Regions from separate parts of the Homo sapiens genome. Here region 2 is linked to region 1. A link means that fine-mapping ties the variant in region 1 to the expression of a gene that starts in the linked region. Tissue or cell type: cerebellar hemisphere. Region 1 holds a variant in brackets; the other region holds the start of a gene. All regions are shown on one strand. Distances are from middle to middle.

What was found. PIP is the estimated chance that this variant, and not a neighbour inherited with it, causes the effect.
Region 2: RNF17 starts here. The variant in region 1 is fine-mapped to the expression of RNF17 in cerebellar hemisphere (GTEx, PIP above 0.99).

The regions. Positions count from the first base shown.
Region 1 is chr13:24,089,157-24,097,422 of GRCh38, forward strand. It overlaps a transcript of SPATA13 not described here. Among named protein-coding and RNA genes, the nearest start is that of SPATA13, 67 kb to the right of the region's middle. The variant G/C (reference allele first, on the strand shown) is at 3,576.
Region 2 is chr13:24,760,664-24,768,663 of GRCh38, forward strand. RNF17 (ring finger protein 17) reads left to right here and starts at 3,506. Exons shown (of 36, transcript NM_031277.3): 1 at 3,506-3,670; 2 at 6,609-6,703. The coding sequence starts at 3,541.

The DNA of each region.
Region 1 (8,266 bases):
AGGAAGAGTTTCTAGTGCCTTCCTGGTGTCTTGCATTTCCCCTGTGTCTCACATGATTTTTGAATGCCCATGCCGGCCAGCCTCTGCTTCATGGTTTGCTGTTCGTATGGTCATAACCCATGAGCAGTGCTATGACCATATTTGCATGGGACCCCCCCACACACCACTCGGACCACATTCTCACAACAGCTCGGTTGTGGCAAAAACAAAAAGGAGATAAAGATATTTCCGTTTTCACTGCTGTGGACGCTAAGGACCAGAGGGGCACAAGATTGGTCTATTATTGTCTTTTAGTAGGCAGAAGAGTCTAGACTGAAAGACAGTTCTCCCGGTTCTGTATCTGATGGAGTCTCTATACAATATGCAATATTACAAAACCCCTCTGGGCTAGGGCAATCAGTTAGTGTTGTGGTAGAATTTGCATAGTATAAATGTACCTTTTAATGAAATAACCACAAATCACCAAAACGCCAAATAATTTTTAATATCAGTGCAGTCCATGCGATATTTGAATATAGTTGTCCTACAGGAAGTATTTGTCATTTATCTGAAATTCAAATTTCACTGGGTGCTTTACCCATTTCTGCTGCCATAACAAAATCCACAGACTGAGGGGGTAACTTATAAACAACAGAAATGTGTTTCTTGTGGTTCTCGAGATTGGAAGTCCAAGATCAGAGCACCAGCAGGTTTGGTGTTTGGTGAGGGCCCAGTCTCCACTTCCAAGATGATGTCCTGCCGCTCTGTCCTCTGGAGGGGCCAAACGCTGTGTTTTCACATGGCATGGACTTGTCCCCTCAAACCCTTTTATAAGGTCTCTCATCCTGTTTATGAGGGCTCTGCCTTCAGGACCTAATCACCTCCTAAAGGCCCCACCCCTGAATACCATATCAAGTTGGTGATTAAGTTTCAACACAAGAATTTTGGGAAAGCTTCAGACTATAGCACTGGACTTCCTTTATTTTTTTTTCTTCTAAATCTGGCAAGTGTAATTCTTCTGACATTGGTCAGATTTCCCCCCAGTTCTCTGCACTTGGACATCCCCCTTATGGACTTTCCTCTGCTTTGCATGATAAACTCACATGTGTTGACTTCTCTGCTCTGCTGTGGCCAGGGTCTTACTCATGCTGCTTGCTGTGAACAGGGTTTGGTGTTAATGGAGCTTCCCCTTTCATAGCTCCAGCCCATCCCTGTCCATCCAACCTGTACATTTAACCACTTACTTGGCATCTCCTTCTAGATGCCCCGCAAACACCTCAAACACAACCATCTAAGGTTAACTATCTTCCCCACAAACATGAGCTCCTCCTGACCGTCCCCTCACCGAACGGTGTCCTCACCTGAGCTTTGACCTCGCCCTCTTTTTTCCCATGCTCCCCCATCCAATCCACCACGTCCTACAGACTACTGAGCATGGTTCTTTCCATTCTGTTTCTCCCATCCCACTGTCCCTACCCCACTTAGAGTTACCACAGCTTCTTGACTGGACTGCCCCAACTTACTGATGTTCCCTATTTGATAAGACATCATCCTTTCACTTTCTTCTAATTCTTTAGACATGACCTCCTCCAGTGATTTGAACATATTTATAATAGCTGACTTAAAAACTTAAATCCAACATCTGGGCCCCTTGGACAGTTTCTATTGACTGCTTTATTTCCTGTGTGCATGGAACTAAACTTTCCTGTTTCTTTTCATGTCTCACATCTTCTGTTGAAAACTGGATGTTTCAAATATTAAATATCCAGATTCCCTCCTCTCTCGGATTTTTGTTGCTGATGATGCTGTTTGCCTGTTTAGTGACTTCTGGTCTGATTCTATAAAGTCTGCCTTTTTTGTCATTTGTAGCTCCCGAAGTCTCTGCTTAGTTAGCCTAGTGGTTGCCTAATGATGGGAGAGAGACTTCCTTACATGCATTGAACTGGTCAGTTTTTCAGCCTTTGCTGAGGGGCTCTGTGTGTGTGTTGGGGCAGACCTTCAGTACTCTAGCACACAGTTCACATCTCTGCCTTACCCTGACCTCTCTGCTAGGAATGGGCCTTAAGGTCAGCAAGAGGCGAGAGACTAAATCCTTCTAAGATCTTGCTTGGGCATACACACAGCCGTGCACATGGGTGTGGCCTTCCTGGTTCTCAATAATATGTCATAGCTTTACAAACCCCTTATGGACATCTCATTCCCTAGTATTTCCTTTTAAGCTTTTTGGTCAGCCTCTTGTTAGCCCCATCTGGTATCACCACTTCAAAACGCTGCTGTGTTAAACAATTGCCATTAATAGTGTTTGACAAATGCCTTTGAGATACGGCTGTTAGAACAGAATATTCTCTGAGTAAGGTCAAATGAAGACAAGCTCTAAGAATTGAGCTTTTCAGGCTGGATGCAATGGCTCATGCCTGTAATCCTAACCCTTTGGGAGGCCAAGGCAGGTGGATCACTTAATGGTCAGGAGTCTGAGACCAGTTTGGCCAACATGGTGAAACCTCGTTTCTACTAAAAATACACAAAGTAGCTAAGCGTGGTGGTGTGCACCTGTAATCCCAGGTACTAAGGAGGCTGAGGCAGGAGAATCGCTTGAACCTGGGAGGCGGAGGCTGCAGTGAGTGGAGATCATGCCCTTGGGTGACAGAGGGAGACTCCATCTCAAAAAAAGAATTGAGTATTTTGGGGAACAGCCAGGCAAGTTAAATAAGGGCAGTTTTCTGGGGATGGCTTTAGGGGAGCTCTAGGCTTATTCTGCCCCTCTCATGGCTGCTAGGCTGCTGTTCTCAGGCTTTCACAGGTCTAAGGCTACCATGGAGCTGGAGAGAGGGGAGATGGGAGCAGGGCAGGTTGAAATGCCACAAAATCACCGTTCTTCCTGACGGTTAGTCATAGTCTTTGACTAAACACTTTACTCCTTGGATTGTTACAAGCCTTTGGTGAATTTGCAGTATTTTGAAAAACTTGTTTTGGCCATTTTTGCCAGTTTTCTCATTGCTTTTATGGAAGAACAGGTTTAGGGAGGTACTTATTCTTCTATTCTGGCAATAACTTCTCCAATGTTGATCTTTTAAAAGTGCTTTTGAGATTGTGTTTTAACCCAAGTTAGGAAACAATGATCATGTGATGTTTTCTGGACATTCCGGCAGCTCTCTAAGGAAGACAATTTTAGGAAGGGTGTGATCAGATAAAACACTAGATATTTATTTTACTTATTTCTCATACCCCATAGTAGGCCTTTATTACTGCCTTGCTCTTGCATAGTTAGTGAATGACTGCAATTGGTATAACTGGAATAAAAAGAGATAATGGTTTATATTTTAGAAGCAGAAGAGTTAATAGGAGCCAGGAGTTTTAAGATAATGGTGATAATGAAGTCACATGGAAACCAATTAAGAGTAAGAGTTTATAAGAAAAACAGTTGAAACCTAAGAGTACTCAAAGGCAATCAGAAAGCCCATTTTAGGGTCTCTTAGAGATGGACTATGTAGAAACTCTATACAAGAGAATATTTTCTGCTGCCCTTTGCCTCTAAAAACATATTGTACTATTGATGTACTGTTTATTCCCTTTCAAACTGCCACATTTGGCAGCTT[G/C]CTATTTCTACATGTTTTAAAGTTGTAGCTTATAAAAAAAGTAGATTTCTTAGCAGTCATATTTGGGCATCTGTATGTGGAGCTTTTATACTCCATAGACTCCACTGTGTGGACTTACTGAAAAGGCTGGTAACAACTAGAAGATTGCCCGAGTAAGCCTGAAACACTGACATTAAGTTGAATGTTTTGGTGTTTGGCATCTTCTCATTAACGTTGCAGATGACTATTTTCTTACACAGAGAATCTGAGAGGATCACCAAAGGCCGTGATGATTAATCTTATTTTCCAGAGCATCCTGGTAAAACAATGGGCACGATCACATTTTGTTAGTAAGGTCACATTTTACTTGAATTGTTTTCCAAAGCCAATAAACAATCCATCCATTTTCCACCTGACCCTAATAAACAGGCCCTATATTTCATAAGGTTAAAAGGTCAGGCTGCCTGAGAGACATCAGTGGGAATCTGCTGTGTCTCTTTGTGCCTGGTTTCAAGCACGTTTTATAAAGGGTGAAAACAAATGTCTTTGAGTTCACTCAAGCTGTTCATCCTTCCTGAATAGAATACAAGTCAGGAAATGCTGAAATTCCTTTTCCAGGCACCAGTATCCCACTGTTCTGTGCCATTAAGCTTGCAAACACTCTATCACCATTTGCCATTTTTAAAAGAGGACGTATGGTTAGTGATCTAGGTTTTCCGAAGGTAAAATGACTTCCTGAAAATTGAGATGGGCCTTAGGTAGAAATGGCCTATTAAATGGTCCCAATACAGATGCAAAGTTCAGGCACGTTTCTGATACACCCCAAAAACAGCTGGAAAGATCAGGCCCAAAATGCTCCATTGAAATCTGATTGGTTTGTTTCTTCTGTGCTAAATGGACCAATTGTGGGGAGAGGCAAAGTCACATAAAGGAAATAGAAGCTTGGCTTGGTGGCTGTGAGGAAACTGCTAGATAGGTTTATTTTAAATATTTTCTATTTATTTTAATGTTACAATTTTATGAAAAGCTTGGTTGCTTTAAGAACCAAAAGGCAGGAAGGGTACAGGGGAAAAGATCTAGGCTGTGGTCATAATACTTAGAGGACTGTGTGTCAAAGCCTGGGTCATGGAACTGTAAGAATCATCTTGGATGCTTGTTGAAAATGTGCCTTCTGGGTGGGGGGACCTGATGCAGCCTCAACTGTAATCAGACTATATACCTCAGGCCTCTCCCCGTCCCGGAGGTTAGATGTCATTGTGCAGTAATGATGCTGTAGGCCATGCCTGGAAGAATGGATGTAAACAGTAGATGTCAGCATGAATGAGTCTCTGGTGCCTGCCTTCTATACCGGAATGTCCTGAACAGCTCTGGAGCAGACCTGGGCTATAAGATTTGGGAGAAGAGCATGAACAGGTTTGTGGGGGGCACATTTTGGGTGTAAAGCCATTATTTCAACATGTCCCAAAGTACTATTTGATGCAGCTTGGCAGCACAAAAATGCCTGTGCACCCGTAGGGAGTGTGATCCTGAGGACTTTGGCGAGAACATCGTGGCCTCACAAATGGGAACTCAGGGTTAACATAGAAAAACCAGGTTTTGACTGCAGCTTTCCACGGGTACATTTAGTGATTCTGAATAAGGATTTCTGCTTGCTCAGGGTTGTGAAAAACGGATCAACATTGTAGGGGAGGATTAGATAACTCGAAAACTGTCCCATCGCAAGATATCTCAGAATGCCAGCACACAGCAGGGCAAGGAAGGCAGAATGGCATCTGCCAAATACTGTGACGGGACAAAGCTAGGAGGTGGGTGCACAGATATTTGCTCTATAGACCTTATTCTTTCTTTATGCTTAAAATGTTTTTAAAAATGTTTTAAAATTTAAAAGCCTAATTGAAGTTAGCTGTGTGTGGTGGTGCACACCTGTAGTTTCAGCTGTTGGGGAGGCTGAGGCAGGAAGATTGCCTGAGCCCAGGAGTTTGAGGTTACAGTAAACTATGATCATACCCTGCAAATAGCCACTGCACTCCAGCCTGGGCAATATAGCAAGACCCTGTGTCTAAAAATTAATATGTAAAATATTTCAGAATAAATAAATAAAATCTACATTGGTGACAGCCTTTTCAAGCTCATTAAGTAAAAACCTCCTTACCACCTTATACCCATTAGGATGGCTACTAAAAGAAAAGAAAATACTAAGTGTTGGTGAGGATGTGGGAAATTGGAACCCTTGTGTGCTATTGGTGGGAATTTGTAAAATGATGTAGCCACTATGTAAAACATGGAGATTTCTCAGAAAGTTAAAAATAGAATCGCCATGTGATCCAGCAATCCCACTTCTGGGTATCTATGTAAAAGAATGAAAAGCAGAGTCTCAAAGAGGCATGTGCACACCCATGTTCACAGCAGTGTTATTCCCAACAGCCAAGAGGCGGAAACAACCCAAGTGTCCATCAGTGGATAAATGGATAAACAAAATGTGGTACACATAGGCAATGAAATATTATTTATTGCATAATTTCACAAAAAGAAGAAAAGCCTGTTACATGCTATAACACAGATGAATGTCAAGGACATTACACTAAGTGAAATAAGCCAGTCACAAAAGGACAAGTACGGTATGATTCCACTTATATGAAGTACTTAGAGTAGTCAAAATCATAGAGATAGGAAATAGAAGGGTGGTTACCCAGGGCTGGGGTAGGGGGTGCAGAATAGGGGAGTTAAATTTAACGGGTACAGAGTTTTAGTTAGGGAAGGTGAAAAGGTACTAGAAGTGGATAGAAGTGCTGGTTACATGAAAGTGGGAATGCACCTGATGCCACGGAGCTATACGTTTAGAAATGGTTATGATGGTAAATATGTATATTTTGCCACAGTTAAAAATAAATATTTTTAAAAAGAAAAACCACCTTAGATAACAGTAAAATGAGACTGGGTATTGAATGAATCTACAGACTTCTCTTCTATGTGGATGCAAAACTCAAAACAGTGGACTTGCAATCTACCCTCGTTTCCCTACAAATTTGGTTCCCTGGGTTAACTTTCCCAACCATCCTGTCCCAAACAAGTGTTGCAATCCCAGCGAAGTGCTTTGGATTGGTTCAGCTGTAAAAACCGTCATTTCTATCTATGAAATGGGTCTTGTTTCTGGTGCCATACCAATAACAGTGCATCTCTCAGACTTCCTTTATCACACCCAGGTTCCTTCAGACGAGAACCTAGATGTTGGGGCTAAATCCAGAGCCCTTTATTCCAGAAGAAATACAGCAAGGTACCTACACCTGCCTCTGAGAGGCTGCCTGGGTCACTTCCCAGCTAAGCCTGGTGGCGTCCTTTATCTCCCAGAGCCCTCACTATCTGCTGCCTCCGTGCATCAGGCCATGCCTTGTTGTGATGCTTTTTTCAGTGACTTTTCATTGGGATCCTACCACCTGCCTGGTGCCTGACTTGTTCTGGAGCTAAACCAAAGAACAAAACAGACATAGCCCATGTTCACGTGGAGCTTATAGTCTCGGGAGGATATCAACATTAAATAAATATATAAAGTTATGGTTAGTGCTGTAAAGAAAAAAGAGTGTTATAATAGAAAATAACAAGGAGGCCTGGGTGCCGTGGCTCACGCCTGTAATCCTAGCACTTTGAGAGGCAGATGCAGGTGGATCACCTGAGGTCAGGGGTTCGAGACCAGCCTGGCCAACATGGCAAAACCCTGTCTCTATTAAAAATACAAAAAAAAATAGCTGGGCGTGGTGGCAGGCACCTGTAATCCAAGCTACTCGGGAGGCTGAGGCAGGAGAATCACTTGAACCCAGAAGGCAGAGGTTGCAGTGAGCCAAGATCGCACCACAGCCTGGGCAGCAGAGTGAGACTCTGTCTAAAAAAAATAATAATAACAAGGGGGACCTAATTTGGACAGGTATGGAGAAGCCATAGAAAGCCACTAGGATGAAGTGAGAAATTCAACTGAGAAATTAGACATGAGGGGGAGTCACCTAAGAACAGAGGGGGGACTGGAAAAGAGCATCCCAAGCAGAGGCTGCCCCAGGGCAGAGCCCTGCAGAAGAGAGCTCAGTGGGCCCAGCCTGGGTAGGAAGTGGAGGTGCAGAGCCGGAAGAATCATGCAGGCCAGATCATTTCAGGCTGTGGAGGCCACACAGAGGACTGTGACCTCTTGCCCAGGTGTAAGGAGATGCTGCTGAGGATTTGAAGCAAGAGCATGACATAGCTAGATTTTCCTTTTAAAAGATCACTCAGGCCCCTTATGTAGAATGGATTAAAAGGGGACAAAAGAGGAGACAAGGAGCCTAGTTAGAGGTGAATGCAGAAATTCGAGGAGAAACAGCGTTGGCCCCGGCTGAAACGGTGCCAGTGGAGTTGAAGTGAAATGGAGATAGAATTAATAGGGCTTCCTGGAGGGATTAAATGCAGAGAGGGAGCTGTCAGTGCACCCGGCATGGGTGGCTGGGTGGGTGTGTGAGGTATTTAATAGTTCTCATGCACTGACAGTTCACTATATGCCAGGCTTTGTGCTAAACATGTTGCATCATCCATTTAGTCCTCTCAGTCAGCCTGTGGGCTGGGTGCTTACAAATGAGAAGCTAAATAATTTCCCCAAGGTCATGCAACTAGTAGGTGACTCAGGAAATTCGCAGCCTGGTCTACTCACTCCAGGACCCAAAGTTCAGGGGAAGACCAGAAAACAAAATTGG
Region 2 (8,000 bases), 670 kb after region 1:
GGAAACAGTCAGCAAAGTAAAGAGCCTATGGAATGGGAGAAAATATTTGCAAACTATACATCTGGTAAGGGGTTAATATCCAAAATACATAAGGAACATAAACAACTCAGTAGGAAGAAAACAACTCAAACAGAAAGTGAGCAAAGGACCTAAATAGACATTTCTCAAAAGATGACATACAAATGGCTAATAGGTATATGAAAGCATGCTCAATGTCACTAATCATCAGGGAAATGCAAATTAAAACCACAATGAGAAATTACAGACGGTATTAGAATGGAGATTATTTAAAAAAAAAGACAAAAGATAACAACTGTTGGCAAGGATATGGAGAAAAGGGAACCCTTATACAGTTAGTGGGAATGTAAATTAGTACAGCCATTATGGGAAACAGTATAAATTATTTGTTGTGTATATTTTCGAGAAGGTAACTGAATGGGTTAACTTAGTTAAATGTTGAAATACGTCTATTCAATAGATTAATTTGGTTTTAGAATATTAAAATTCTGGCTTGGTGTTATTCTATTAATCCCACTCTTATGGTGGGAATAAATATGTTATATGTTTCTATTCAATAATTTGGTTTTAGAATATTAATATTTTGGCTTGGTGTTATTCTATTAATCCCACTCTTATGTTGGGAATAAATATGTTATATGCTTAACAACAACAAAGAAACCTAACTTTGACCATGGATTTGATTTCAGGTGCACAGGGCTAAGGGCAGCCTGCAGGTTAGCTCTGTGACTGCATAGTTCTACATTCTTTCTCTGATCTGCTGCTGCTATTTGATCTCTGAATTTCTCTTTAGTTTTGGTGAAACTTTCTAAAAGACATTCACTGTGGGTCAGATGCAATTTATAAAAATTGTGTATTCAAGAAGGGAGCCCTGTTTATCTCATTTCTCAGCTGTTTAGGAGATGATTTTAGAGCACTAGAAAGGCACTGGTAGAGAGGCAGGCAGAGGGCAAACCTCCAAGGCCATTAAGGTTTTGTTGTAATTCATAGGAAGCCATTAAAGGGTTCCAAACAAAGGATTTAAACAACCTAAATTGAATGTTAAGAAGACATTTCTGGCTGCTCTATTTGAGGGTTCTTGGTAAGTGCTAAGAAATGAACAAATGTGGTATAATCATCTATCAGTGTATTTCTCACTGGCCCTGATTTATCCAAGATTAATTCAATTTCTGGGATTACCAAAGGCATCTCTGATGAAACTCAAGACCCACATTAAATATCCACATTATGGCCCACGATGAACACCTATGCAATGAGATTGTCATTATTCAAATTACAGTACAGCTATCCTAGAGGAAAAAGAGGCTTGCTACATGCTAGAATAGCATTAAGTGTGGAGAGAAATGTGAAGGTTTAAAGGAGAAAGTGCTTCTAAAGCTGATCCAGGAAGGATAAGGAGAATATGGGCCGGACGCGGTGGCTCACGCCTGTAATCCTAGCACTTTGGGAGGCCTAAGGCGGGCAGACTGCCTGAGCTCAGGAGTTTGAGAGCAGCCTGTGCAACACAGTGAAACCCAGTCAATACTAAAATACAAAAAATCAGCTGGGCGTGGTGGCATGCGCCTGTAGTCCCAGTTACTGGGGAGGCTGAGACAGGAGAATTGCTTGAACCCGGAGACCAAGGTTGCAGTGAGCTGAGATCTCGCCATTGCACTCCAGCCTGGGCGACAGAGCAAGACTCCATTTCTAAAAAAAAAAAAAAAAAAAAAAAAGAGAATATGAATTGATGAAGAGTGAACAGTAGGTATTCCAGATGAGGGGAATAGGGAATAATACTCACAAAACTGTAGAAGAGTCAACATGTTACATGAGAATATTGGCTTGATTAGTACTCAGTTCCATCATGGATTAGTAGTGGAAACTATTGGATGAGTAGTAGAATGAGGGTAATTTAGGGAAGCAGTACTTTTCTCTCGAAGACAACAAATTACAAAGATTTTTGAGCCGAAGTGAGCCTTTCAAGAGAATACTTACTTCACAGTTTCTAGTTACCCACACACAGTGTAGAGAGAAAAGAAAATGAGGAATATGGGCAGGCTTTATTCTTAGCAGCAAAAGGCAACCGTGCCACCTCCAGGTGTTTTGTTTGAAATACACCTGCCACCTTTCTACTAGATTACTTCATTCCTTGCTCACAAAACGTCTCATGCACTCTACTGCTTAAAGAGTAAAGTCCAAACTCCTCAGCCTTACACTCGAGATTCTCCGAAATTCTTCCCTGACACACCTCTCCAAAGAAGCTTACTTTAAGGAAACTCATACTCTGGCTAAATGGTCTTTAAATTCTCAAGAAGTCACTGTGTCTTCCATCTACCTTCCCTCACATCTACCTTCCCTCGCTGATGTGTTCTTTATTCTTGGAATCCCTTAGTTCTTGTTTACTCCTGTAAGTACTACCTAGGTTGTAAGGTCTAGTGCAAACCCTATATCCTCTACGAAGAGTTTTCATACCACCGTAGACCATATTGACTTCATTTCTTCATTGCTTTTTGTGAACTATGCTTGGACAAGTTGCTTCAACTCTTTTTTTTTTTTTTTTGAGACGCAGTCTCGCTCTGTCGCCCAGACTGGAGTGCAGTGGTATGATCTCGGCTCACTGCAAGCTCCGCCTCCCAGGTTCACGCCATTCTCCTGCCTCAGCCTCCCAAGTAGCTGGAACTACAGGCGCCCACCGCCACGTCCGGCTAATTTTTTTTTTTTTTTTTTTTTGTATTTTTAGTAGAGACAGGGTTTCACCATGTTAGCCAGGATGGTCTCGATCTCCTGACCTCGTGATCTGCCCGCCCTGGCCTCCCAAAGTGCTGGCATTACAGGCGTGAGCCACCGCGCCGGGCCCAGAAGGCTAATTCTTACTGTCTCTAACACAGGTCCGGTACATAACACTTATTTTGGCGGAAGTTACTGGGTTTTTTTAAGGAGTTATGTATCTCTCAAGCAGAAACCTGCTAGTTCATAAATTCTTAGCATCCCCAACCACTCTTGGCACGCTGCCTTGTATATTATTAGGCTCAACAGCAGTTAGTAATGATGAACACTCCTTAATTCGAAAGCGTTCACTGAATCTACCCCAACGATAGCTTCTCATTAGCTTCTCCACTCCAGCTGCTATTGGCCAAGCCCTGGATGCCCGAAGCACACAGGTTTAGGGCTTCTGGCCCTGACACGTAATAGGGAAAGGGGATTGTTTCAATCCAAATGATTATCTATAAAGTCACTCACAATGTAAGTAATAATATGCGAAATTTTAATTTGTGATGACTAAAAGCACTAAAGTGGTGACTCTTTGGGTAGAACGTAAAAACGAACGGTCCTCAACGGCCACAAGGCGCCCCTTCTAGGAGTGGTACCTCCCAGGATAACGGAAAACAGCCCCAGCCCCATCAGGAGCGAGCTTGGGGGCGGGCTTTAATCTCCCGGCCCACTGTTTGGCTATCTGCAGGGGCTGGCCTCCAATGATTGGTCGCTGCCGCGAGGGCCGCCGGGACTCGCACTCGGCGGTTGTTCCAGAAGAAAGAGACAGCGATGGCGGCAGAGGCTTCGAAGACTGGGCCTTCTAGGTCTTCCTACCAGCGAATGGGGAGGAAGAGTCAGCCCTGGGGTGCCGCTGAAATCCAGTGCACCAGGTGTGGAAGGAGGGTATCCAGATCATCCGGTGAGGAGCCCAAGGGCCCACCTAGCGGGGAGGCAGCCTGGAGGGAGCGCTGGGGGCCAGGTGAGCTGGTGGGCGCGTGAGGCTTGGTCAGCTGCATCCAATCCTGGTGTCACCAGAAACTGCGTCACAGGCCTCCCGCGAGCTGCACCCGACCTCTAAGAGGGCAGTGCTTGGGTTGGTTAAGGGCAGCACCTGCGCCTGTCACGGCTTTCTCCAATTACCCATCCAGGCCTCACCGACCCTCCAGCCGGGAGGATGGGGGCCCGGGTGGCTTTAATCTACTCCTCACAAGGCAGGTTAGCGGGTGCATGCAAAAGTAGACATAAAATGTAGCCCATTGTTTTGTCATCAAGAAGGAACGAAACTTGATTTTCTCCTGTAGTTTTTGTTGTAGGAGTAACAAGTAGACCATTGTGAAATGGTTTTGGATTTTGTTGTTGTTGTTAGCATTTTGTTGTTTCTGTGGGGGTTTTTTTGTTTGTTTTTTACATTATGGCTCACACTGGCCTAAAACACTGTTTGGAAAATGATAGTTTCTTTTGTGCACCTTGTGGGGTGTGTGTGTGTGTGTGTGTGTGTGTGTGTGTGTGTTGGTCTTTATACGTGAGGGGAAAAATACACTGCACTATTATTGGTCTGTTCACCTACAATCTACTCAAGTGATCACAGGTTCAAGTTATTTATTATTATTTTTTTCTTTGAGTTGGAGTCTCGCTCTGTAGCCCAGGCTGGAGTGCAGTGGCGCGATCTCGGCTCACTGCAAGCTCCGCCTCCCAGGTTCACGCCATTCTCCTGTCTCAGCCTCTGGAGTAGCTGGGACTACAGGCGCCCGCCACCACGCCCGGCTAATTTTTTGTATATTTAGTAGAGACAGGGTTTCACCGTGTTAGCCAGGATGGTCTCGATCTCCTGACCTCGTGATCCGCCCGTCTTGGCCTCCCAAAGTGCTGGGATTACAGGCGTGAGCCACCGCGCCCGGCCGGTTCAAGTTATTTTAATGTAACTTAAAATACCTTAGTGTGCTCTTAATACAGCTGAGTTGTTGAATCTCAATTCCTGGAGCTACTGAAAATTCGTATTACCTGGCGTAACTGTTTAATGTTTATACTTTCAAAGTTAAGGTCATTCGATCAGTTTTCTCAGTCTTGGCAAGATGGACTCTGTGAGATGTGAGCCTCTGCAGAAAAAGTTGTGATTTCAGTGGAGAACCAAGTTTCTCCTACTTGGGGTTTAGATCACTGCTACCGTTACGTAGAAAATTTCCATTTTTGAATGAAATTAAAATTACGGAATAAAGTTCTAGAACACAACCTTTTAAAATGAGTACTTCTTCCATACATTAGTATTATAATGCTTAGAAAAACTAAACTGGAGAAGTAGTGGTTATGTATATAGAATCCTGAAAGTGCTTTTTAAGCTGTAATTCACCACAAGTTATTTTGAGTTATTCAGTATCAGAAATTTTATAATAGTTAAGTGTTTTTATTTCTTTGGCAATATTATCCCTGGAAGTTAAATAGGGTTTTAAAATTTAGCATGGTTGTAAGCAAGTTTCAGGTATTTCAGTTGGATAGGAAACTTGTAAAGTTTTTAAAAAATACAATTAATGCAAGGCCGGGCACAGTGGCTCACGCCTATAGTCCCAGCACTTTGGGAGGCCGAGGTGGGCGGATCACTTGAGGTCGGGAGATCAAGACCAGCCTAGGCAACATGGTGAAATCCCATCTCTACTAAAAATACAAAAAAATTAGCTAGGCGTGCTGACGCACACCTGTAATCTCAGCTACTCCGGAGGCCGAGGCAGGAGAATAGCATGAACTCAGGAGGCAGAGTTGGCAGTGAACCGAGATCGTGGTCCGTCTCAGAATGAGTGAATGAATGGATGAATAAATAAATAAATAAAATTAATGCGATTATAATTCAGCAAGAACTCTATAATTATTTTGCTAGTAAAAGATGACTGATTTTTATCTAGTTTTTTTCCCTTTTCAGTTTTCTTGCAAAACTTTAAAAATGACAACCTTTTGAAATTATATAGCTAAAACAAATGTTATTTATTATAAACTTCAAATTCTTAGAGCATTTAATCATGATGTTAGGTTTTCAATCAAGTTACGATATTTCCTTTCATAAATGCTAAGTTTGTGAAAATGTGAGTTGTAGATATGTGATAATAGTAGCATCTGGCTTCTGGCCTTGCCAGTGTCTTAAATAATTCTAACAGCACGGTCTTGCCAGTGTCTCATTTTGGCCCTTCCTGACCTCTTCACAGGATGGGAAATATAAAGTAGTAGAGGGCAGTATGATCAATCAGAAAGAATGTTAGACTTGGAAACAGAGCTAGATAGGAGTCTGGATTATACCATTTAGTTAACCAAATCTCCAAAATGCTATTTCATCTCCAGCCCACTTAACTGTGATATTTACAAATAACAAATAAAATGTGTCAGAGCACTTTGTGTAAGATATGGCAGATTCAAAGTATTCTAGGTACAAAATAGCCATCTGAATTAATGCAAATGCTATTACATAGCTCTTCTTGGTTTTTCTTCTTGATTTTTCTCCCTCCTGACCTGAATAGTTGGTTACTCCTGATTTATATTCAATAAGTCAACCATTTCAAACTGTAGTAGGTATCTTTTCCTGTACAGTAGGATCCTCTTTGAATTTCCCTTGTATCAGTATTGCCCATTCAACATTAACACACTGTGGGCAGTTTAATCACAATAGAATTTCTTCAGTAAAATTAGCCGGGTGTGTTGGGACACACCTATAGTCCCAGCTACTTGGGAGGCTGAGGTAGGAGGATCACTTGAGCCCAAGAGGTGGAGGCTGCAGTGAGCTGGTGCCACTACACTCCAGCTTGGGCAACAGAGCAAGACCCTGTCTCAATAATCATCATCATCATCAAAATAATAATTAAGAATTTCATCAATAGGTCACCATTGTGAACTTCAATGTGGACATGCTTTTTGTGAACTATGCTTGTTAATGACTGAAGAATGCACCACAATTATATGCCCTGATTGTGAGGTAAGTGTTATAATTTTTCAGATGAAACATATCACAACCTAATGTTAATGGTAAAAATACTACAGTAGTAAAACGTACTTCTAGTTAGAAACTAAAAAGTTGGCCGGGCGTGGTGGCTGACGCCTGTAATCCCAGCACTTTTGGAGGCTGAGGCGGGCAGATCACGAGATCAAGAGATCAAGACCACCTTGGCCAACATGGGGAAACCCCGTCTCTACTAAAAATACAAAAATTTGCTGGACCTAGTGGTGCACACCTGTAGTCCCAGCTGCTCGGTAGCCTGAAGCAGGAGAATCGCTTGAACCTGGGAGGTGGAGGCTGCAGTGAGCCAAGATTGCACCACTGCACTCCAGTCTGGCGACAGAGCAAGACTCCATCTCAAAAAAAAAAAAAAAACCCTAAAATCTTGCATTTTTGCTGCTGAATCTTTAAGCAAAGAAACCTAACAAAAGATAAAACTTTTTCTATCCATTTTATAATTGTGTAAAGTGATCAGGAAAAATAAAAGGCGCTAAAGTCATACACTTATCGGCCTACATATTTTGATTCTTTGGTGACTTCTGTGGAAAATTATGTCTTTTGTTTATTTTAATGGTGTATATTCCTTTAAAAACCCTAGCCCCTGTTTTACCCACCAATCCATGCAACCACATTTTGAACTCCCCCCCTGCCCCTCAACCTTTGTGTGTCATCAAATGTACATTTGGGAGATGCCATTCTACAACAAGGTAGAGAAGCAAAACTACTGCCTAAAATTTTTACTTCAGAAGCCATTAAGACTGAAATCTTTCCATAAGAATGAGAACAAATTAAGGATGTAAAATAAAATTTACTTGATATCCTATTCATTTAATACAAATATAAGTGTAGTTCAGCTTATATAATATTGTTCCTGGAAAGTTGACTCAAGCTGTAAATTCCTTTTTTTTTTTTTTTGAGACGGAGTCTCACTGTGTCCCCCAGGCTGGAGTGCAGTGACTCAATCTCAGCTCACTGCAACCTCCGCCTCCCAGGTCCAAGTGATTTTCCTGCCTCAGCCTCCCAAGTAGCTGGGACTGTAGGTCTGTGCCACCACGCCCGACTAATTTTTTGTATTTTTAATAGAGAGGGGGTTTCACCATATTAGCCAGGATGGTCTCGATCTCCTCACCTCGTGATCCGCCCACCTCGGCCTCCCAAAGTGCTGGGATTACAGGCATGAGCCACCGCGCCTGGCCAAGCTGTAAATTCTTGATGTTTTACTGGATAAATCAGATGATAAGGCTTTGTATCATTTGTTTTCTGTGGAAGTGTGGCA